2 linked regions of the Homo sapiens genome follow. The protein of the gene in region 1 purifies or fractionates together with the protein of each later gene. This does not show direct contact. Each region holds a gene or a part of one and is shown on either strand. Other genes may lie near its edges.

The links.
Region 2: the proteins of NLRX1 (region 1) and HERC4 purify together in Homo sapiens (affinity purification with mass spectrometry; 2 studies listed by BioGRID and IntAct, with this or other methods). This does not show direct contact.

What each region holds. Positions count from the first base shown.
Region 1 is NC_000011.10:119,171,645-119,188,385, forward strand, and holds the end of NLRX1 (NLR family member X1 isoform 1 precursor), read left to right. Parts: intron 1-711; coding exon 712-781; intron 782-1,256; coding exon 1,257-1,345; intron 1,346-1,834; coding exon 1,835-2,454; intron 2,455-2,808; coding exon 2,809-3,630; intron 3,631-8,048; coding exon 8,049-8,644; intron 8,645-9,526; coding exon 9,527-9,613; intron 9,614-10,449; coding exon 10,450-10,701; intron 10,702-11,473; coding exon 11,474-11,795; 3' UTR 11,796-12,176; coding exon of another isoform or gene 12,177-12,336; 3' UTR 12,337-12,372; downstream 12,373-16,741. Other genes in the region: NHERF4 (Na(+)/H(+) exchange regulatory cofactor NHE-RF4), read left to right, coding at 14,519-15,046, 15,626-15,815, 15,920-16,056, 16,296-16,500, 16,711-16,741.
Region 2 is NC_000010.11:68,065,284-68,072,283, reverse strand, and holds part of HERC4 (probable E3 ubiquitin-protein ligase HERC4), read left to right. Parts: intron 1-1,684; coding exon of another isoform or gene 1,685-1,791; exon of another isoform or gene 1,792-4,595; intron 4,596-5,066; exon of another isoform or gene 5,067-5,183; coding exon of another isoform or gene 5,184-5,199; intron 5,200-7,000. UniProt on the Homo sapiens protein: Probable E3 ubiquitin-protein ligase involved in either protein trafficking or in the distribution of cellular structures. Required for spermatozoon maturation and fertility, and for the removal of the cytoplasmic droplet of the spermatozoon.

The sequences.
Region 1 (16,741 bases):
CAACCTAAAATAAGGGAGTTGGACTTGGCCAGGTGCGGTGGCTCATGCCTGTAATCCTAGCACTTTGGAAGGCCGAGGCAGGCGGATCACAAGATCAGGAGTTTGAGACCAGCCTGGCAACATGGTGAAACCCTGTCTCTATTAAAACTACAAAAAAAAAAATTAACCAGGTGTAGTGGTGCACACCTGTAATCCCAGCTAGTTGGGAGGCTGAGGCAGGAGAATCATTTGAACCGGGAGGCAGAAGTTGCAGTGAGCTGAGATCGCACCATTGCACTCCAGCCTGGACAATAGAGTAAGACTCTGTCTCAAAAAAAAAAAAAGAGAGTTGGACTAGATCATCTTCGAGAGTCTCTTGTAGCTACATAAGTCTAGGAACTTGTCTGATTTTACTTTACATACAACAGAGATTTACTGAGTGCCTGCCGTACCGCAGACCTGGTGTTAAGTTCTAAGTAAATAATTGTGAACAAAAACAGACGTAAAGGGGACAAAAAAATTTTAAAACACCCAAATGTGATCCCTCTCATGGAGGAGAGAGGAATGAATGTTAATCGAATAATCACACAATGAAATATAAAATTGCAAAATAACTGCTGCAAAGGGGCAGTACATGCTGCTATGAGAGCAAATACTGGGGGGTTTGATGTAGACATGGGTTCTGTGTATTGCATGGGATCTGCAGATGCTATTTCTTCCTTCTCTCTGTAGATGATCGTATCCCCTTCCTGATCCACTGGAGTTGGCCCCTTCAAGGGGAGCGTCCCTTTGGGCCCCCTAGGTGAGGCCTGGGTGTCATACCTTAGGACTAGTCTGGGCACAACAGAGCAGACTGGGAAGGGTCAGGACTTGGGGCTAGCTTGATCTCTTGGGGACCTTGGGGAGGGGCTTGGTCCTTTGGGGGTGGGAGGACAGTGGCAGCTCCAAGGCCTGAGAGGAAGTTGGCTTAGATCATCTGTGGTAGAAGGCATAGTAGTCAGTGGAGGGAGGACCCTGTGGGAAGTGGGTGGAGCCTCACATGGCCAGCCTGAGTTCCAGGCGGGCAGTCAGCAGTGGGGTCTGGAGGGCTAGGGCTAAGGCCTCAGCACCTGGGAAGGGTGTGAGAGTCAGACAAGCCTCTAAACTTGGGGGTCCAGTGTGGGGCCTTTATCTCAGGAAACCAGAAGTCTAGCAGTGCAGATAGGCTTGGACCCAGAGCCTGTGAAGGGGCTGATCCAAGTTACAAGTCCCAGCTCATCCCCTCTCCTTGTTCCCAGGGCCTTTATACGCCACCACGGAAGCTCGGTAGATAGCGCTCCCCCACCCGGGAGGCATGGACGGCTGTTCCCCAGCGCCTCTGCAACTGGTAAAGGGACTGGCTGGGACCCTGGTCAGGGGGTGTGGTGGGCAGACGGGGCTGGAAGGAGAAGCAGGGTGAGGGAGGCATAGAGGATCCACTGCCATCTTCCATCGGTGGTCCCTCCTCCTCTCTCTCTCTCCCTCCCATCCGTCTATGTATCCCTTCCTGCAATACTCTTGCAATGCACACTTATATGTACAAAGCGCTAGGAGAGCCATACCATCCCTATGCTCAACAAAGTTGGGTCAAGCAGGTTAAGACGGCACATAGGTCACTGTGAAACCAGTTTGTCCAGTGGCTTCCCACTTTCTGACATAGGGGTTCCAGACTTTCTGGACAGTCTATATTTTCTCAGGGAGTCTTGTGTGCCCACCATTGTGGGCCCCAGCATCTATGCCGTGATGTCCCAGCCTGACCTCACCACCGCCCTGATTGGCCCTAAGCTACATCTCCAGGCCCCTTTCCCTGACACATTTCCCTTATCTTCCCACTCAGAAGCTATACAGCGGCACCGCCGGAACCTGGCTGAGTGGTTCAGCCGGCTGCCCAGGGAGGAGCGCCAGTTTGGCCCAACCTTTGCCCTAGACACGGTCCACGTTGACCCTGTGATCCGCGAGAGTACCCCTGATGAGCTACTTCGCCCACCCGCGGAGCTGGCCCTGGAGCATCAGCCACCCCAGGCCGGGCTCCCCCCACTGGCCTTGTCTCAGCTCTTTAACCCGGATGCCTGTGGGCGCCGGGTGCAGACAGTGGTGCTGTATGGGACAGTGGGCACAGGCAAGAGCACGCTGGTGCGCAAGATGGTTCTGGACTGGTGTTATGGGCGGCTGCCGGCCTTCGAGCTGCTCATCCCCTTCTCCTGTGAGGACCTGTCATCCCTGGGCCCTGCCCCAGCCTCCCTGTGCCAACTTGTGGCCCAGCGCTACACGCCCCTGAAGGAGGTTCTGCCCCTGATGGCTGCTGCTGGGTCCCACCTCCTCTTTGTGCTCCATGGCTTAGAGCATCTCAACCTCGACTTCCGGCTGGCAGGCACGGGACTTTGTAGTGACCCGGAGGAACCGCAGGAACCAGCTGCTATCATCGTCAACCTGCTGCGCAAATACATGCTGCCTCAGGTGGGTGGCCCTTTACCCCAGGTTATCACTGCTGCCCGTTGACTCGCCCCCTAGGTCCTGGGTTACTTTAACTCCTGGTCCCTTCACTTCCCAGTGGTGCGACCCTGAGCAAGTCAGTAACTTCCCCAGCCTTCTGTTCCTTTCTTTTTGAGTTGCTCTGATCAAATGGGGTACTGCATATAATATTAGCACAGCGGCCTGGATCACAGCAGGTGTTCAGTAATTGCTAGTTATAACTGTTATCCTCATCAATGTCTTCATCCTTGGACACTCCGTCTTCAGGGGTCCCCTGGGAATAGAAGCAGTCAACAGGACACTAAGGTCTTTCTTAACTCTCAACCATGCTCTTCCCAGGCCAGCATTCTGGTGACCACTCGGCCCTCTGCCATTGGCCGTATCCCCAGCAAGTACGTGGGCCGCTATGGTGAGATCTGCGGTTTCTCTGATACCAACCTGCAGAAGCTCTACTTCCAGCTCCGCCTCAACCAGCCGTACTGCGGGTATGCCGTTGGCGGTTCAGGTGTCTCTGCCACACCAGCTCAGCGTGACCACCTGGTGCAGATGCTCTCCCGGAACCTGGAGGGGCACCACCAGATAGCCGCTGCCTGCTTCCTGCCGTCCTATTGCTGGCTCGTTTGTGCCACCTTGCACTTCCTGCATGCCCCCACGCCTGCTGGGCAGACCCTTACAAGCATCTATACCAGCTTCCTGCGCCTCAACTTCAGCGGGGAAACCCTGGACAGCACTGACCCCTCCAATTTGTCCCTGATGGCCTATGCAGCCCGAACCATGGGCAAGTTGGCCTATGAGGGGGTGTCCTCCCGCAAGACCTACTTCTCTGAAGAGGATGTCTGTGGCTGCCTGGAGGCTGGCATCAGGACGGAGGAGGAGTTTCAGCTGCTGCACATCTTCCGTCGGGATGCCCTGAGGTTTTTCCTGGCCCCATGTGTGGAGCCAGGGCGTGCAGGCACCTTCGTGTTCACCGTGCCCGCCATGCAGGAATACCTGGCTGCCCTCTACATTGTGCTGGGTTTGCGCAAGACGACCCTGCAAAAGGTGGGCAAGGAAGTGGCTGAGCTCGTGGGCCGTGTTGGGGAGGACGTCAGCCTGGTACTGGGCATCATGGCCAAGCTGCTGCCTCTGCGGGCTCTGCCTCTGCTCTTCAACCTGATCAAGGTAACATCCCGATCAAGGTAACCCCCCAACCTGCTCCTTCCCTCCCCAGCACCCCAAGCCGCCCACGCCCCCACATGGTTCCCTGTTCACCCCTTGCTCCTCTCCCAGCAGGAAACTGCTGCTTCCTGCAAAGGTATGAATCTTCTCCCTGGATCTGGTTTCAGCTCTGAGCATTTTGGCTTTTAGTGGGATTGCAGAGAGAGAAGCCACAAGGCTGGGGAAGGCTTGGTGGCTGGGGAAGGGAACCTGGGGACGTGGGGACTTTAATAATAATGCTACATGGATTCCTAAAAATGGTTTCCTTTTTGTGTCTTTCCTCCTAGGAGGCAGGCCTATCCTCTGCTTTGCAGGTCCAGAAACTCGATTGTGTCTGCTCCTCCAGAGGTGATTAGGCTCTGAGAGTGATGACTCATCCTAACTAAATCACCAGAGACGGGTTTATAAAGCAGATGCCATTTTATTCATTTATACTAGGAAGATAAATGGCATTGGTAATTGGCTTAGGGGAGTCATCATGAGGGCAGGTCCACTCCAGAAACCAAATTACAGACCTGAGGACTGTGCTGTGAGTGGCACAGCTGAGCGAGGTCTTTGAGGGCTGGAAGGAGCCACTCTGTGTGATGTGTGCCAGGCGCGTTATCAGTGTTCATCCTTTTGTTTTTCACATTACTCCTGGAAAGGAAATACTATTATGATCCCTTTTATAGATGAATAAACTGAGGCTCAGAGAGGTAAAGTAACTTGTCCAAGATCACTCAAATAGTAAGTTTAAAAGCCCAGGGCTTTGTGATTCTGAATCCTGTGCTCTTTCTGCCAAACTATACTGGTGCATTACGGATATGTCTGTCGAGCTGTGGGACCTTGCTAGGTAACCTTTGTTTTCTCTAGGAATGTTTCAGCAACGCATTTTGAGGAGGCAGAGTGCTGGTTAGTGCTGGCAGAATTTCAACACTTTTTAAAAATTTAAATGTATTTTTATTTTTATTTTTTGAGACAGAGTCTTACTCTGTTGCCCAGGCCTAGAGTGCAGTGGTGCAATCATAGCTCACTGCAGCTTCGACCTTCTGGGCTCAAGCAATCCTCCCACCTCAACTTCACTGAGTAGCTGGGACCTCAGGCATGTGCCACCATCCCCAGCTAATTTTTAAAATTTTAATTTTGTAGCCGGGTGCAGTGGCTCACGCCTGTAATCCCAGCACTTTGAGAGGCGAGGCAGGTAGATCACCTGAGGTCAGGAGTTTGAGACCAACCTGGCCAACATGGTTAACCAAGTGTGGTGCCGGGTGCCTGTAATCCCAGCTACTTGGGAGGCTGAGACGGGAGAATTGCTTGAGCCTGGGAGGCAGAGGTTGCAGTGAGCCAAGATTGCGCCACTGCACTCCAGCCTGAGCAACAGAGACTCCCTCTCAAAAATAAAAAAATAATAATAACAAAATTAAATTAAATTAAAAAATAAAAAATTTTTAATTTTGTAGAGATGGGGTCTCACTAGTGATCCTCTCACTTTGGCCTCCCAAAGTGCTGGGCTACAGGTGTGAACCACTGTGCCCAGCCAACTTTTTATTTTTATAGGCACCAAAGCATAAGGGCTAAGAACAGGGATTTGGTAACTCAGCTATTTGAGTTCAAATCCAGGCTCTGCTACTTATTAGCTGTGAGACTTTGGACAGGTTACTTAGTTCTGTGCCTCAGATTCCTTATCTGTGAAATGGAGATAATACTAGAACTTATATCACTGGCCTAATATGAAGATGAAATGAACTCATCCTCAGGGTCTAGGACATGGTAAGTGCTATTTAATTGTTTTTTGTTTGTTTGTTTTTTTGAGATGGAGTCTCGCTCTGTCGCCCAGGCTGGAGTGCAGTGGCACCGTCTCTGCTCACTGCAACCTCCACCTCCCGGATTTAAGTGATTCTCCCAGCTCAGCCTCCCAAGTAGCTGGGACTACAGGCACCTGCCACCATGCCCGGCTTATTTTTGTATTTTTAGTAGAGACAGGGTTTCTCCATGTTGGCCAGACTGGTCTTGAACTCCTGACCTCAGGTGATCCACCCACCTCAGCCTCCCACAGTGCTGGGATTACAGGAGTGAGCCACCACGCCCGGCCTATGCTGTTTAATTGTTTGTCACACATAGAAACAGACTTAGTTCCAGACCAGCCTGGCCAACATGGTGAAACCCCATCTCTACTAAAAATACAAAAATTAGCCGGGTGTGGTGGCACGTGTCTGTAATCCCAGCTACTCGGGAGGCTGAGGCAGGAGAATCTCTTGAGCCCAGGAAGTGGAGGTTGCAGTGAGCTGAGATCGCGCCACTGTACTCCAGCCTGGGTGACAGAGCGAGACTCTGTCTCACAAAAAAAAAAAAAGAAAAAAGAAAGAAACAAAGAAACAGGCTCGGGCAGCCCACCCCTTCTCACACATCACCTCCGACAGGAGGTCACAGCTGCTGCTGAGGCCACCCCGCCTTGAGGATGTGCCTGCCGGACCTGAGTTGCAACGAGAGGCTGCAGTCTCCCGAGGGGATTCAGAAAGCCCCCAGTTATTGAAAACCCAGCAGAATTGTCAGCCCTGCACCCCCAAGCCCTCTTGGAGGGAGGGTTGCCCTGGCAGAGCACTGAGCCCATCTGTTTATTCACCATCCTGTGGATTCAGCTTCACAGGGTGACATATTCTGTCACAGGTTGGTGTTGGAGAAGGGGCACTATCACCTCTATGAGAGTAACCTCACATATAAACATGAAAACAAGCCAGGTGCAGTGGGGCACACTTGTAGTCACAGCTGTCAGGAGGCCAAGGCAGGAGGATCGCTTGAGCCTAAGAGTTAAAGGCTACAGTGAGCTATGATCACACCACTGCACTCCAGCCTAGGTGACACAGCAAGACTCTGTCTCTAAACAAATAAAAATTAAAACATTAAAAAGTAAAAAAAACCCAGATGTTAAAGGACGTGCCACAAAACAACGTCATGGTTTGTTGCCAGAGGAATGACCCTTCTTCCCTTTCAGAACCATTGCAGGAATGGGGGAAGATATCACAAACCCCCAACATTTATTTCTTTGTCAGATATTTGAGTGCCTGCTGTGTGCCAGGCAATGTGTTAGAATCTGAGGAAATGTCAGTTAACAAAACTACAGGTTTCAGCCCTTTCTGATCTAGTCTGAGCTCCTCTCCCAGAAGGAAACTGCTACTTCCTGCACAGTTTGAGCACAAAAATATCAATGTAACCATATAAGGAAAAATTACAGCAAATGCCTGGGAAGAAGGAGCCCCAGATGCCATGAAAGTGTATAGTGGGGGAACTGGTCTGCGGGGTCAGGAGAGCCTCTTTGTGGAAGGGCATGTCGTCTGACCCTTGTAGCATTAGCCAAAGGAAGAAGTTGGGGGAGGGGAAATGCCCCAGGAAAGGGCAGCACCCTGGAGGCTTTTTTTTTTTTTTTTTCTCTTGAGACAGGGTCTTGCTCTGTTGCCCAGGCTGGAGTTCAGTGGTGTGATCTCAGCTCACTGCATCCCTGACCTCCAGTGCTCAAGGGACTACAGGCACATGCCACCATGCCTGGCTAATTTATTTTTAATTAAGAAAATTTTTTTAATAGAGATGGCATCTTGCTACATTGCCCAGGCTGGTCTAGAACTCCTGGGCTCAAGTGATCCTCCCACCTCGGCCTCCCTAAGTGCTGGGATTACGGGCATGAGCCACTGCACCTGGCCTATGGAGGCTTTGAAGGAGGAAAAACCTTGGCACTGTTAAGATGAAAAAAGCCGAAAGGGCAGGAGCATAGCGAGTGGGGCCAAGAGGCTTGTGATGAAGGCATCGTAGTCGGCAGGGCCCAGATCACACAGGCCCTTAAAGCAGTAGGAACTGCATGTTGAAGATGGTGATGTATTTGTGATACCTAGCCCGGTCCCAAACTAAGTGTGTAATACATGCTAATTCCTTCTCACCACCTCCTGGGTTTGAAAATGTATCAGGGTGTTTGGGAAAGAGAAAGAAGTTCCTAATGTCTGCAGCACATGAGACAGGTGTTGAGAGATGACCCTGGAAAGGTCAAATTAGGGCCAAATTATGAAAAGTTTTGGGCCAGGTGCAGTGGCTTATGCCTATAATCCTAGCACTTTGGGGGGCCTAAGCTAGGGAGCCCAGAAGTTCAAGACCAGCTTAGGTGACACAGCAAGACCCCATCTCTAGTTTTAAGAAACGTTTCATATTCCAGGCTAAATGTTTGGAGTTTGCCACATAGGCAGTAGGGAGCCATGGAAGGTGTCGCAGCAGGGGAGTAGCATGATCAGACAAATTATGCTAAGTTCAAGGGGAGATCACAGGGCTGGAGCAGTCATGGGAGTGTACCTTAAGCTGAACCTTGAAGGCTGAACAGGCACATGGAAGGCCACAGTGACTCTCCCCTGCTTCTTTTTCAGGTGGTTCCACGAGTGTTTGGGCGCATGGTGGGTAAAAGCCGGGAGGCGGTGGCTCAGGCCATGGTGCTGGAGATGTTTCGAGAGGAGGACTACTACAACGATGATGTTCTGGACCAGATGGGCGCCAGTATCCTGGGCGTGGAGGGCCCCCGGCGCCACCCAGATGAGCCCCCTGAGGATGAAGTCTTCGAGCTCTTCCCCATGTTCATGGGGGGGCTTCTCTCTGCCCACAACCGAGCTGTGCTAGCTCAGCTTGGCTGCCCCATCAAGAACCTGGATGCCCTGGAGAATGCCCAGGCCATCAAGAAGAAGCTGGGCAAGCTGGGCCGGCAGGTGCTGCCCCCATCAGAGCTCCTTGACCACCTCTTCTTCCACTATGAGTTCCAGAACCAGCGCTTCTCCGCTGAGGTGCTCAGCTCCCTGCGTCAGCTCAACCTGGCAGGTGTGCGCATGACACCAGTCAAGTGCACAGTGGTGGCAGCTGTGCTGGGCAGCGGAAGGCATGCCCTGGATGAGGTGAACTTGGCCTCCTGCCAGCTAGATCCTGCTGGGCTGCGCACACTCCTGCCTGTCTTCCTGCGTGCCCGGAAGCTGGGGTGAGGACCTATCCTCATGCACAGGCATGAAGAGGGAAGAGGGTTGGAGGTGAAGAAGTGGGAAAAGAAAGTGCCAGGGAAACCAGAGGTACCGATGAGTGACCAGAAGGTGGGATGAAGAAGTCTAGTTTAGGGGCCGGGAGCAGTGGCTCACACCTGTAATCCCAGCACTTTGGGAGCCCAAGGCGGGCGTATCACCTGAGGTCAGGAGTTCGAGACCAGCCTCAACATGGAGAAACCCTGTCTCTACTAAAAATACAAAATTAGCCAGGCATGGTGGTGCATGCCTGTAATCCCAGCTACTTGGGAGGCTGAGGCAGGAGAATTGCTTGAACCTGGGAGGCGGAGGTTGCGGTGAGCTGAGATCATGCCATCGCACTCCAGCCTGGGCAACAACAGCAAAACTCCGTCTCAAAAAAAAAAAAAAAAGTCTAGTTTGGGTGGAGGTGACAGGAGCAACAGAAGGGAGGAGCCAGGCATGGTGGCTCCTGCCTGTAATCCCACTGCTTTGGGAGGCCAAGGCAGAAGCATCACTTGAGCCTAATAGTCTGAGACCATCCTGGGCAACATAGCAAGACCCTGTCTCTACAAAAAATTAAAAAATTAGTCAGGTGTGGTGGCATGTAGCTATCATCCCAGCTACTCGGGAGGCTGAGGTGGGAGGATTGCTTGAGCCCAGGAGTCTGAGGCTGCAGTGAGTTGTGATCATGCCATTGTGCTCCAACCTGGGCAACAGAGTGAGACCCTGTCTCTCAAAAAAGGGGAAGCAGGTATAGATTCCCAGAGGCAGGCTGATGAAAAAAAGGCATGGTAGATGGACAGACTGCCTGCTGAATTCCCTCCCTGGTCTCTCACCTCCCCTCTGGCCACCTTCTGCTCCAGCTTGCAACTCAACAGCCTGGGCCCTGAGGCCTGCAAGGACCTCCGAGACCTGTTGCTGCATGACCAGTGCCAAATTACCACACTGCGGTGAGTGACCTGGGAGTGGGGCATCCTGGTGGCCAGCTAAGGTCAAGGGTGAGCTCCCTGCTTCCTGACATACTTGGCACAGACCCACCCAAGGGATAGTAAATGGAGGAGAGTCTAGGCCCTGACCTGTCCCCTCCACTTCCCCCAGGTCCACTGCAAGCAGCAGGGCAGCAGGGAAACATGCCACCTGTAATGGGTGCTAAGAAACCTCTCACGTGGCTAAAATCAGCCTGGGGGAGGTGGGGAGAGAGGGTGGAATAATACCTAGGCCGGTTGCCTGGTAACAGTGCCACTGATCCCCTCCCAGGATTTTTCTTGCAGCCTCCCGAGGAGGACCCTAATGCTGGGCACTCAGTAGACACCCCTTAAGTGTTGACTGATATGTGGGGAACCTGAGCTCCTGGGTTCCCAGTTTCTGATTGGTGTAAGGGGAGGCAAATGAGGAGAGAAAAAGGAAGAGCAGGGAGAAGGATAGGGGAGTCAGAGGGGAGGGAGAAGCAGAGGCTGTGGAGGGGGTGAAAAAGGCAGAAAAAGGGAAACGGAAATGGTGAAAAGGAAGGGAATAGATAAGAAGGGAGTCAGGGGAAGAGGGAAGGAAAGGCCAGCTCCCCTACTCTGACTCCTCTGCCAGGCGCCACACCCCCTATTGCTCCAGCCTTTCTCCTGGGCCTGCATTTCTATGTCCAGGTTCCTCTTGCCCCATGCAGGGCCCTCTTTGGCCCAAGTCCTGACACCCAGCACAGGGCTGCCCCATTAAGGCTGCCAGTACCACCCCCAACCTTGCCTCCCCCTCCTCTCAATGAGCCCTCATAACCTTGGGTTGCACGTGGCTGTAGGCTGTCCAACAACCCGCTGACGGCGGCAGGTGTTGCCGTGCTAATGGAGGGGCTGGCAGGAAACACCTCAGTGACGCACCTGTCCCTGCTGCACACGGGCCTTGGGGACGAAGGCCTGGAGCTGCTGGCTGCCCAGCTGGACCGCAACCGGCAGCTGCAGGAGCTGAACGTGGCGTACAACGGTGCTGGTGACACAGCGGCCCTGGCCCTGGCCAGAGCTGCCCGGGAGCACCCTTCCCTGGAACTGCTACAGTGAGTCCTGTCCCTGGTCCCATTGCCCCCAGCCCTTCAGACTACTTCCCTCTCTCAACTGTGCTCCTCCAATCCTAGGGAGTGCTTCTGGGCCTGGGCCTGGTGCCTGTCCTTTATTCCTGGTTTCTGACTGATCCTTGTCAACCTAGCTCTGAGCCAACCCACCCCCTCTGTGACTGGCGCTTAAACTGCACCAATTCCCTACCACCATTTCTCCTAAAGCCCTACTGTCTCTGGTCCCACTGAATTCTAGTATCAGGGTCGGCTGTGGTGGCTCACGTCTGTAATCCCAGCACTTCGGGGGGCCAAGGCGGGCACATCACCTGAGGTCAGGAGTTCAAGACCAGTCTGGCCAACATGGTGAAACCCCGTTTCTACTAAAAATACAAAAATTATCTGGGTGTGGTGGTGCGCACCTGTAATCCCAGCTACTTGGGAGGCTGAGGCAGGAGAATCACCTGAACCCGGCAGGTGGAGGTTGCAGTAAGCCGAGATCATGCCACTGCACTCCAGCCTGGGTGACAGAGCAAGACTCCATCTCAAAAAAAACAAAAACAAAAACAAAAACAAAAACAAAAAAAAAAAAGAATTTTAGTATTAGTCCCTGCCTCCCACTGGCCAGCAGCCTCCACCTCTGGCTCATTGCAGTTACCTGATCGCACTCTGCAGCCAGGAGATGAGTTGTGAGGCCCCCTGACTTTCCATCCATCTACCCTCGGGCCCTCCTTCTCAGAGCTCTACTGAATGGCATCGACTTTCTCTCTCCTGCCAGCCTCTACTTCAATGAGCTGAGCTCAGAGGGCCGCCAGGTCTTGCGAGACTTGGGGGGTGCTGCTGAAGGTGGTGCCCGGGTGGTGGTGTCACTGACAGAGGGGACGGCGGTGTCAGAATACTGGTCAGTGATCCTCAGTGAAGTCCAGCGGAACCTCAATAGCTGGGATCGGGCCCGGGTTCAGCGACACCTTGAGCTCCTACTGCGGGATCTGGAAGATAGCCGGGGTGCCACCCTTAATCCTTGGCGCAAGGCCCAGCTGCTGCGAGTGGAGGGCGAGGTCAGGGCCCTCCTGGAGCAGCTGGGAAGCTCTGGAAGCTGAGACACTGGCGGCAGGCACCTAGCTATGTGACCACTGGCCCTAAACCTTTTCCCTCTGTGGCCTCCTGGCTTGCACTGCTCCCTCTAGAAAGATTCCTTCAGGTCTGGAGGCAGAGGAATGGGCATAGCTGAGCCAGTTGCCCTCCTAGGGCATGTTTGACCAGGACTGAGTCTGGAATCTCCAAGTTAAAGATGGTGAATCAATGCTTCGGGCTTGGAGATGGAACATGCCTCCTCTCCATTCAGCTAGAAGGACCAAAGCATGTGGCATTTGGATGGCCAGAGTGCCCTGAAGCACCACTACCAACCTTGCCTCCCCCTCCTCTCAAAGAGCCTCTGACTGTGTCACCAAGGGGCTCACATCTTATGTCTGCCATGCCAGGGGTGTCGCCATCCAGATGTGTTGGAAGCTTCCCCTCCTGCCTTATGCTCACCTGTGGACACCGAGGATGCCCTCACATTGGTGCTTTCTCCTCATCCTCATGCCCCCTTTGCCACAATGGTATGATGGCTTGGTAGCCCCTCGAGGCAGATGCACCTGACTTGCTGCTATTAAAAAGCCGTGTGCCTTCTACCAATTGTGGCCTCTTCTTTACTGCCTGGTGCTTCCAAGAAAGGGCACTGTTCTTGGTCTTTCTGGTTAAACTACCAACCATGATCTATTGCAAGTGGTTCTTGGGCACTAGGTTCAGAGGCAGTGGAGGCTGGAAGGGCCCATGAACAAGATATTGGCATGGGGGTTGGCCATGCTGGGCTGTATTAGTCCAGTCTCACGCTGCTAATAAAGACATACCCAAGACAGGGTAAGTAATTTATAAAGGAGGCTGGGCATGGTGACTCACGCCCGTAATCCCAGCACTTTGGGAGGCCGAGGTGAGCGGATCACCTGAGGTCAGGAGTTTGAGACCAGCCTGACCGACATGGATAGACCTCGTCTCTACTAAAAATACAAAATTAGCTGGGTGTGATGGCACATGCTTGTAATCCCAGCTACTCGAGAGGCTGAAGCAAGAGTATTGCTTGAACCCAGGAGGTGGAGGTTGCCGTGAGCCGAGATAGTGCCACTGCACTCCAGCCTGGAGAACAAGAGTGAAACTCTGTCAAAAAAAAAATTTATAAACGAAAGAGGTTTAATTGACTCACAGTTCCACATAGCTGGGGAGGCCTCACAATCGTGGCAGAAGGCAAATGAGGAGCAAAGTCACATCTTACATAGCAGCAGGCAAGAGAGTGTGTGCCGGGGAACTCCCCTTTATAAAACCATCAAATCTCATGAGACTTATTCACTATCATGAAAACAGCACGGGAAAACCTGCCCCTGTGATTTAATTACCTCCCACCGGGTACCTCCCATGACACGAGGGAGTTATGGGAGCTGCAATTCAAGATGAGATTTGGGTAGGGACACAGCCAAACCATACTATGGGCCATAGAATTATCACCCTTTTCACACTTACCCCCCAGGCTTGGAGTTAGTGACCAGCAATCTGCCTTTCTCTGCACAGAGGGGCAACTGGGTCAGATTCAGGGTCTCCAGAAAAAGTTGGGGCCCAGGGATAGATTCAGGAGGAACCCACACAGTTTTCCAGAGGATAAGACTCTCAGCGGGGCACGGTGGCTGACGCCTGTAATCCCAGCACTTTGGGAGGCCGATGAGGGCAGATCACCTGAGGTGGGGAGTTTGAGACCAGCCTGACTAATATGGAGAAACCCCATCTCTACTAAAAATACAAAATTAGCCAGGTGTGGTGGTGCATGCCTGTAATCCCAGCTACTCGGGAGGCTGAGGCAGGAGAATTGCTTGAACCTGGGAGGCAGAGGTTATGATGAGCCAAGATCATGCCATTGCACTCCAGCCTGGGCAACAAGAGCTAAACTCGGTCTCAAAAAAAAAAAAAAAAAAAAAAAAAAAAAAAGACTCTCACTCCCGTTAACCATTACCCCACTGCTTCCACAGCGTCTTCAAGGAGGCGGGACCTGGGAGGGGATGGGTGGGAGGATCAGTGGCTGTGATGAACCTTGTCCCTACCCCGGGCACTGGGTTGCTGATCCAGCTATGGAGAAAGCCGCAGGTAGGAGGCCAGGAGAAATCCTCTGCAGGGGACTTTGGGACAGGCAGGGGGCCGACTTGGAGGCTGAAGCTTTGGGACCAGGGCACACTTGATTTTGGGGCTTGGAGCCCTGAGGCAGGTAAACAAGTCAGGAGAAAAGTAATGAGTTGATATGTCTGTCTTCCTGGTCCACACCCTGTACTGATATGCTCAGATTTATGTGCCAAGGACTTGGGGGGAGAGAAAGGGAGGGGACCGCACAATAGTCCTGTGTGTATGGCAGTGAGAAGAGAAGACCCCTTTGGAGCAGAAAGGAGGGGGCATGCCCTGAGTTTGGGGGTTTCCCTGAGTCCTTTTAGTTTATGCCAATGGAAGAGGCACATCTGGGGAGAAGAATGTGACTCTCCTCCTCTCACCCACTTCTTTGCCCAGTAGATCTGCAGGACACAGCCTCGTTAACTCTGTAAGTGCCACGAGGGTTGGGGCAAGGGGAGGAAATAATTGGAGGCAGCGAAGCGCTTCACTGCCATTAGCACCTAAAGGAGATCCTGGGACCCAAGTCCAGCTGCCAGCTTGTACCTGCTTCCCCTGCCTCCTTGCAGGAAGTTTAAGTTTAACCCAAAGCTGGGCATTGATAATCCTGTCCTCTCCCTGGCCGAAGACCACGACCCCTATGGTAACTCCCTCACCCCCTGGCAACCATTCCCTATCCCTGGAGGCACCACGGCTCCACACGGCCTCCGATCTCCTTGGTAACCACTCACTCGGTCTCCCTCTGATAACAGCCTTGGTTGGGAGTAGAGATAGGAGGGGCCGGGTGTTTTCTCCTGTCCCAGTCCCTCTGCCCACGAACCCCACCACCCAACACCCAACCAGGCAGAAACTGCCCAGCACCCTATCAGGACACAGGGTCTGCCAGGCACACGGCGAACCTGTACTTGGGCTGTGCCCTCTCCTCCCCCTTTTCTGCTGCCCACCTCACCCTCCAGATCCCTGGAGCCTGGAGCGGCCTCGCTTCTGTTTACTGAGCAAAGAGGAGGGCAAGAGTTTTGGCTTCCACCTGCAGCAGGAGCTGGGCAGGGCTGGGCATGTGGTGTGCAGGGTGGACCCAGGCACCTCTGCCCAGCGCCAGGGTCTTCAGGAAGGAGACAGGATCCTGGCGGTGAACAATGATGTTGTGGAACACGAAGACTATGCGGTGGTAAGGCTGTGGTCCAGGAGAGCATGCTAGCACCTCAGAAAGAGAAGCGGGTTGCTCAGTCCCCTGGGCAGTATGGCAGCAGGGCACAAGCCTCACTCCCCCACACCCCAGGATTTAGAAGTGCCCAAGTCAGAGGGGTAGGGAAAGCATCTAGAAAGCCGATTCCCGCTGGGCGCAGTGGCTCACGCCTGTAATCCCAGCACTTTGGGAGGCCAAGGCAGGTGGATCACCCAAGGTCAGGAGTTCAAGACCAGCCTGGCCAACATGGCAAGACCCTGTCTCTACTAAAAATACAGAAATTAGCTGGGCGTGGTGGCAGGCGCCTGTAATCCCAGCTACTCGGGAGGGCTGAGGCAGGAGAATCACTTGAACATGGGAGGCGGAGGTTGCGGTGAGCTGAGATCGCACCATTGCACTCCAACCTGGGCGACAAGAGCAAAACTCCATCTCAAAAAAAAAAAAAAAAAAGAAAAAGAAAAAAAGCCGATTCCCTTGGCAAAAAAATGTGGATTCCAGGGAGGTCCTGGGGGTTGGCAAGAGGGTCTAGACCAAACCCACGCCCACGTGCCCTCTGTCCAGGTGGTACGCCGCATCCGGGCCAGCAGCCCTCGGGTGTTGCTGACAGTATTGGCACGGCATGCACATGACGTGGCCCGAGCTCAGCTGGGAGAAGATGCCCACCTCTGTCCCACCCTAGGCCCAGGGGTCCGGCCCCGGCTGTGCCACATAGTGAAAGATGAGGGTGGTTTTGGCTTCAGTGTCACCCATGGTGAGCCCAGAGGGTGCGAGGGGGCGGCAAGGATGAGGGATCTCAGCCCCTGTTCAGGGCAGGCAGGAAACAGACTGGACCTTGCTTTTTTTTTTAATTTCTAGGCAATCAGGGTCCTTTCTGGTTGGTGCTAAGTACTGGAGGAGCAGCTGAGCGGGCAGGGGTGCCCCCCGGGGCCCGGCTGCTGGAAGTGAATGGGGTCAGTGTGGAGAAGTTCACTCACAACCAACTCACCAGGAAGGTGTGACTGCCTGTCTCCCACTCTCCTCCCCCAATCCGGGCCTGGGCCCCACCTCGGGAAGACGCCTCCTTCCCCATGCGCCTAACCTCCTTATCTGGTCTCCTACCTTTATCACCATCCTCCCCCTCTACAGTTTGTGCCAGGCTCCACTTAGTGCCTGGGAGGAGGGGCTGTGGGGGGAGCATACCTCTTCTCTCCCTGCCCAGGTGTTATACTGATGCCCTGCTGGGTCCCCACAGCTTTGGCAGAGTGGACAGCAGGTGACCTTGCTGGTGGCAGGGCCAGAGGTGGAAGAACAGTGTCGCCAGCTGGGATTGCCCCTGGCTGCACCCCTGGCAGAGGGCTGGGCACTGCCCACCAAGCCCCGCTGCCTGCACCTGGAGAAAGGGCCCCAGGGTTTTGGGTTCCTGCTCCGGGAGGAAAAGGGCCTTGACGGTCGCCCTGGTGAGTGGGAGCCCTGGGGGCGGTGGGGGAAGGTGGGCCTTGGGGTGGGCACACAAGCGTATATACACCTTTCAGTGCACCGAAGAGGTGTCCCTGTCTGAGCTCTGGCCCTGGGCCGCCTCTTCCCGTTCACTCTGGGGTCAGTCCCCTGGTGTGTACACAGTGGCCTAGGATAGCTGGAGAGGAGCAGTGAGGATGTCTATGCCCCAGGACAGTTCCTGTGGGAGGTGGACCCGGGACT
Region 2 (7,000 bases), on another chromosome or scaffold:
ATTAAATAATTTGTAGGGTAATGAGAATTTTGAGGAATTTGGTCACATTTCATGTTCTGTTCCTGGATATTGTATTTTAAAATCAAATATTTCTACATTTAGGAGTATCATTGTTATGTGAGTTTTGCTTTCAATTATGATAACTAAAAGTTAATGATTTCAGGTGGTAAATTCAGATGAGACTGCAGCTATACTGACTTACTGTTTATTTTAACTGTAACAATAATGGCACTTCAGTATTTTCTGTGGCAGTTATTTTATCAGTTTATTAATTAGGTGGTTTCTGTTGTTACTCAGCTTTTGAGAGATTAATGTAATCTAAGATATTCAGGCATTAAATTAAGGCACGATTCATCCTTCACATCATCTCACGACCATGCCAAATCTCACTTTTCTAACTTGCAAATACTGTATCGTTTTCATCCTTTCTTTGTGGTTAAGGTCTTAGTGTATTTTCTTCTGCCTTAATTTGTAATTTATTTTTTATTGGATAAATGATAGTGACATTCATAAAATAGATTTTTAATTCTTGCAGAACTCAAAGTAAATGGCAGCTTTCTTGTACTCTACCTGTCTAAGAACATTTTATGGATTCCTACCAGATTTTCATGATCTCAGGCATTGAGGTGGTCATATTGGTAGAAATGAATGGTAATTTACTGATACGCATTTGATGATTGTCTCTGCTCCAGAGACAAATGGGCCCTTTACTATTTTTGCTTAGCTTGGAATGCTGCCTCAGGTTGAGATTTTCATGGTACGGAGGCTACTGCTGTTCTTTGTACTTTAGCATGCCCCATAGAAATAACTGAACATCTCTCTGTATTACTTTAATAATTTCTGAAAGGCCATAGGGCAAGTAGAAAGTAAAAAGCCAGCACATAGAAATTGCCAGTATAGTTACTTAGGTCTACTGAGGTTTAAAATGTTTAAGTGTTAGAGGTAGACACTGTGTACTAGTAGTATAATGATTATAGTGCCAGGAACAGCCTCCAACTGTATAGATGAGATTCTGAGAAACTTAACTAGCTAGAATAGGCTTCTTTGTGGTCATGTTGACATTGTGATGATTGCACTGTGACATCTATATCATCTTGATTCATCCTGGAACCATTATTTGGTAATGTAAAGTTGGGGCAGTGGGTTTCCCTAATTTGGGATACCTCTTTAGGATTGCCTCATTGTTGTCCCGATTACACCACAGCCTGTGGAAGAGAAAAGTGACAGGCATTAGCTTTGTCTTGAGAAATTTAGAGTCTGGGTTGGGAGTTAAGGTATACATGAACAACTGGAGAGAACTGGAAATTAGACATGATGTGCCATGCACTTTGAGCCTAGGACATTTAAATGATGGGAAATATTATGGGATAGAATTAAAGTAAGATTTCTGGGAGAAAATGAAGGCTTACATTTAATTCTATTGGTGATCACATAAACAGCTAGGAAATAAGTCTGGAGCTGAAATAGTTTTGTAGAAGGGGGGGGTCCTGATCCTGAGAAAAGCTTTTTATTATCAGAAGTTCTGGTTCGATGATATATTGAAGTGAACCTAGGTTTCAGAGGGAAGAGAAACAAGTTCAAAAAGTAGTAGTTGCTGTGATAGGAACTTCATCTTTTAATCTCAGCTTTGATTGAATATTTATTTATTTATTTATTTTTATTTTTATTTTTTTTTTTGAGACAGAGTTTCGCTCTTGTTTCCCAGGCCGGAGTGCAATGGCGCCATCTCGGCTCACCGCAACCTCTGCCTCCCAGGTTCAAGCAATTCTCCTGCCTCAGCCTCCCGAATAGCTGGGATTACAGGCGCCCACCACAATGCCTGGCTACTTTTCATATTTTAATGGAGATGGGGTTTTACCATGTTGGCCAGGCTGGTCTCGAACTCCTGACCTCAGGTGATCCGCCTGCCTTGGCCTCCCGAAGTGCTGGAATTACAGGCATGAGCCACTGCTCCTGGCCTAAGATGTTTTTTAAATAATGTTTTTAACTAAATTTTAAGAATGTTTTTAACTAAAGTTATTTATATTTGGAATAATTCGTTAATGATTTGTGTCATTTCCCCAACCCCTTTTTAAATTTGTGAATTTGAGGACTGGATTAAAAGATAAAAAGTTGTTGGATCTTATTTATTTTAAAGTCTTCTGGTAATTGAGCAAGTTGGTTATATTTCTGGGACAATGTAATAAACATAGTTCATTTCCCAGGAGGTTTTTGTTTTGTTTTGTTTTGTTTCGTTTTGTTTGAGACAGAGTCTCACTCTGTTGCCCAGGCTGGAATGCAGTGGCACGATCTCTGCTCACTGCAACCTCCGCCTCCCAGGTTCAAGCGATTCTCCTGCCTCGGCCTCCCGAGTAGGTGGGACTATAGGGGCGTGCCACCATGCCCGGGTAATTTTTTATATTTTTAGTAGGGACGGGGTTTCACCGTGTTAGCCAGGATGGTCTTGATATCCTGACCTTGTGATCTGCCCGCCTTGGCCTCCCAGAGTGCTGGGATTACAGGCGTGAGCCACCGTGCCCAGCTGACTTCACAAGAACTTTAAACTTGTGTCAGAAAGCACATGGAATGGAGGGAACTAAGAATTGTTTCTTTACATAGGTTGGCTTTATAAATATACATATTCCATAACTAATAAGGAATGAAGGAGAAAGAGGTAGCCTTATTAAGGATAAATTATTCTCGAGATTCATAATAACCTACTGGAGGACTTGGCCTGACAATGTAGTGAATAGATTTAACCTGTGGCCTATTGAAAAGAGGTGTTTCTGTTCTGGACTTTTTAGGGACCACACAGAAAGATTTAACTGAATTCCTTTATTATACTAAAGGTGCAGATTATGTTCATGTTCATCTCTGTTGTCTTGTATATGTATGTCCTTTTCTATCACTACTGGCTTTTCTGAATTATTTCCAGAGAAGTGAATGTCTGTTTCACTTTCATGTTTTTTTCTTCATAAGAACTTTAAAATACTTTTTAAGCTAATGTCTCAATTTTTAAATTTATAGCTAACAAATATATTTAATCTTCAGTGCGCTAGACCAATCCATTTAAATGAATTGTTGTTTTTTTATACTTTCAAATTCAGTTCTGAAGATTTTAAGTATGGGAAGTATACTTTTCTTTACAAGATCCTTTTCTTACTGTGTATCTAATCATAGGTATAATTTGGTGACCATGGTTATGTTTTGCACATTGATTTCCATTTGTTTCATGTTAGAAACAGTACTAAACTGTTCTGTGACCATAATTTGTAAATAAAGTGGTGTTCTGTTTAAAAACAAGCCCTGTTATCTAAAAAACAGTTTTTTGTGTTTTACAACATTCTTTCAAATGGAGTATCTCATTTAATTCTCACAACAGTTGTATGTAGCTAAGGCAGGTATCATGGTCCGCATTTTACAGATGAGGACACTGAGGTTAAAAGAGATTAAGAGACTAATAGGGTCACTTGGCTAGCACATCTTGAGACCACCCTAAATCTTGTGGTTTTTATCCTTAATCTCACAAATCTTTTCCTTTGCTACATTTAGAAGGTAAAAGAATATTTGTTCACCTTTGAGGAAGCTGGTTTCCATCAGTATTTTATTGTAATTCTGAGGGTTTTTTATTTTTTATATTTTTTTGAGATGGGGTCTTATTCTGTTGCTTAGGGTAGAGTGCAGTGGCGTGATAATAGCTCACTGTAGCCTTGGACTCCTGGGCTCAAGTGATCCTCCTGCCTCAGCTTCCCCAGTAGTTGGGACTACACTTATGTGCCACCATGCCTGGCTAATTTTTTTTTTTTTTTTTTTTTTTTGAAACGGAGTCTTGCTCTGTTACCCAGGCTGGCGTGCAGTGGTGTGATCTCTGCTCACTGCAGCCTCCACCTCCCAGGTTCAAGTGATTCTCCTGTCTCAGCCTCCCGAGTAGCTGGGACTACAGGTGTGTGCCACCACACCTGGCTAATTTTTTTGTAGTTTTAGTAGAGACAGGGTTTCACCATGTTGGCCAGGGGGGTCTCGAACTCCTGACCTCAGGTGATCTGCCCACCTCGGTCTCCCAAAGTGCTGGGATTACAGGCATGAGCCACCAGGCCTGGCCAATTTTTTTATGTTTGTTAGAGAAGGGGGTCTCCCTATGTTGCCCAGTCTGGTCTCAAACTCCAGTCCTCAAGCTATCCTCCTGTCCTGGCTTCCCCAAATTGCTGGGATTTATAGGGATGAGCTACTGTGGCAGCCAAGAAAAATCTTTAAAAAATTACTATCTTATAACTAAGCTTATACAATGAAGACAGCATATTTTATTGTCTTCCCCCTTGTACACAAACTTAAAAATCATTTTAAGAACTGATAAGAAGATCGAGAGTTCTATTTTCAAGATGTAATATTGTACCAACAAAAGCTAAAAAATTCAAATATGTATAGTGTATTACTGAATGGAAGACTAACTCGATTGGCAGAGTTTATAGGTAATAGTTTTAATAGTATGATAAAATTTATTGTGGTTTATGTTGAACTCTTTTTAAAGATGATGAGCATTGATTCTTTGTTTTCCATATCCTCGAATGGTAATTTCTACTGTTGAGTCATTCCAATAAAAGCATTTTGGTCACATAGTAGTGATTACTTGGCTTGCCTTTCTTGCTTCTTCATTTTTCTGACCTGTTCTCTCTGTTCATAAAACAAATTTATAAACGAGCTGCTCCTTAAAATATAGTTGAAATTTAAAAAGTAATATAGGAAAATATAACTATGGGAAATAAAGTTACTCACTTAAGGGTGGGTTAAAAATAAAAATACCAGATTATCCCACACATTTCTTACTGAACCAGAACATTTAAACCAAAGAAGCTCATTGCGTTTTATAACTCCCGGTTTTCACAATACCTTCTAAGGAAGAGAAAGATGTGGATGATAGATTTGAAAAAAGTAATTACTTGGGTCAGGAGTGGAGGCTTGCTTTGAACGCTTTACTTTGAGAAAGGTTAGTGCCCAAGAATCACAGTGTCAAGGGTAGGAAAAAAAATCATAATGCAAACAGATGACTACCGTTAGAGAAATGTATAATAATACTTTACTTTGTGTAGGACCCTACATCTGAGGAATTTCAAGAGCATTACACAATAACTCATGGTTCCTTTCAAAATGCTTGTGACACAATTTGCAAGAATTATCCTCATCTTAGGGGATAAATTTACGGAGAAATGGCAGCACACGTTGGTAAGTAACTTGTCAAAATAGCAGATGACTGGTGAACAGCTATAAGTTGAATCTGAAAGTTAGAGTCTACCAGTCTCCTACCTTATTCACTAAATTGTGCTTATGTTTAGAATTATTTACAGTAATATCTTCTGTTTGAGGCAGGTCAAATACTAGTGCACAGATTGTTTCCCTGCCATTCGATTTGATGGCCTGTTAAATCATTATTTTACCAAGATGCTTACATTCTGATACCACTTTGATACTTCAGTATAACTCTGTGTGGTATGAAGAATATTTGAACAAACGAACAGAAACTTAACTATGGTAATGCCCAGTCTTTTCTCTTTTCTGTTATATATTGTATATATCCCCTTGTCTAACTGCTATGCTGTACTACAAGCCAAGGTCCATAGTAACTGACTTGCAGAATTGATTTGGTGGCTAACCTTGGAACTTGGATTAGTTATGTTGTATAAAGTCCGCCATGTAGATACATGCATCTCTCTCTAAGATGCATTGGTTTGGTGGATGCTTTATAAAACTCTTAAAACCTACACAGAAGACAAAAATAGCAGTAGATGCCTAATCTGAGCAGTCTAACAAAGGGAAACTTCTTTAAAGTACTTGGAACCAGTGATTTTCTCTTGGGTATGTTAGTGTTTTTACATGATTAGAAGTGAGCCACATACTTTCCTTAAAAGATCAGCAGTGTGGTAGATTTGGTTTTACAATTTGGGTACTTAGCAGATTCTTGTTGCAGATGGCAGTCTAGGTAGTCTAGTTACCATTATCTCCTTAGTAAAGATTCTTAGGTTCTGTATTCCCAATATATCATACAAATGTAGCACTGTTTTTAAAGCTCATTTCTCACAAAGGCATGTATTTTTAAAACTGCTTTGAAGACACAAAAGTTACTTCTGTATTCCTAGGCTATAAAGTATATCAAGTGCTTGGGATATGTATGAAAGAATCTAATAGAGGAGGTGTACTCAAATGTTTATATAAGAGTTTATTTGGGCTTGGATAATGTTAGTAGAAAAATGGGTAACACTAATGAGGAAACTATATTAATGAGCTCATGGTTGACCTTCTTTCTGTTCCCCTGGATTTTTTTTTTTCATTTTGATGAAATTTAAAAGGCAATAATTAATTTTAAATTGTAATGAGTTATGATAATTACCTTATATGCGAGAAAAACCTATGCTGTGTGTAATTATACAGACATTTTATTGGAGTTTTGTTTTGTTTTTTTAGACAGGATCTTGTTGTCACTGGAGTACAGTGGTTAAATCGTGGCTCAATGCAGCCTCGACTTCCCTGGGTTCAGGAATCCTCTTATCTCAGCCTGCTGAGTAGCTGGGACCACATGTGCATGCCACCATGCCCAGCATATTTTTGTATTTTTTATAGAGACAGGGTTCCACTCTTTTGCCCAAGCTGGTCTCGAAGTGATCCTCGCACCTCAGACTCCCAAAGTGCTGGGATTATAGGCATGAACCACCACGCCAGGCCTTATTAGAGTTTGTTTGTTTTTGTTTTAATGGGAAATTTCTTGCATTTCGGTGGCTTATTCTTTAAACCATAAGTTTTATTTGCCTAGATTTACTCTTTTGTGTTCATTTCTAGCATGGCAGAATTTTGGTTTAGCCTTTCTTGGCCATAAGACATTCTGGAATCCTTTAGAATGGGCTTTTCACAAATTATTTGAAAATATATTAATTACTTTTTTATTCATATCTAAGTTTTGCCTCATTTTATTCCTTTGCTAGGTGTTATACTATTCTGAAATAACATATTTTTAGTTTTTCATAATTGTTTT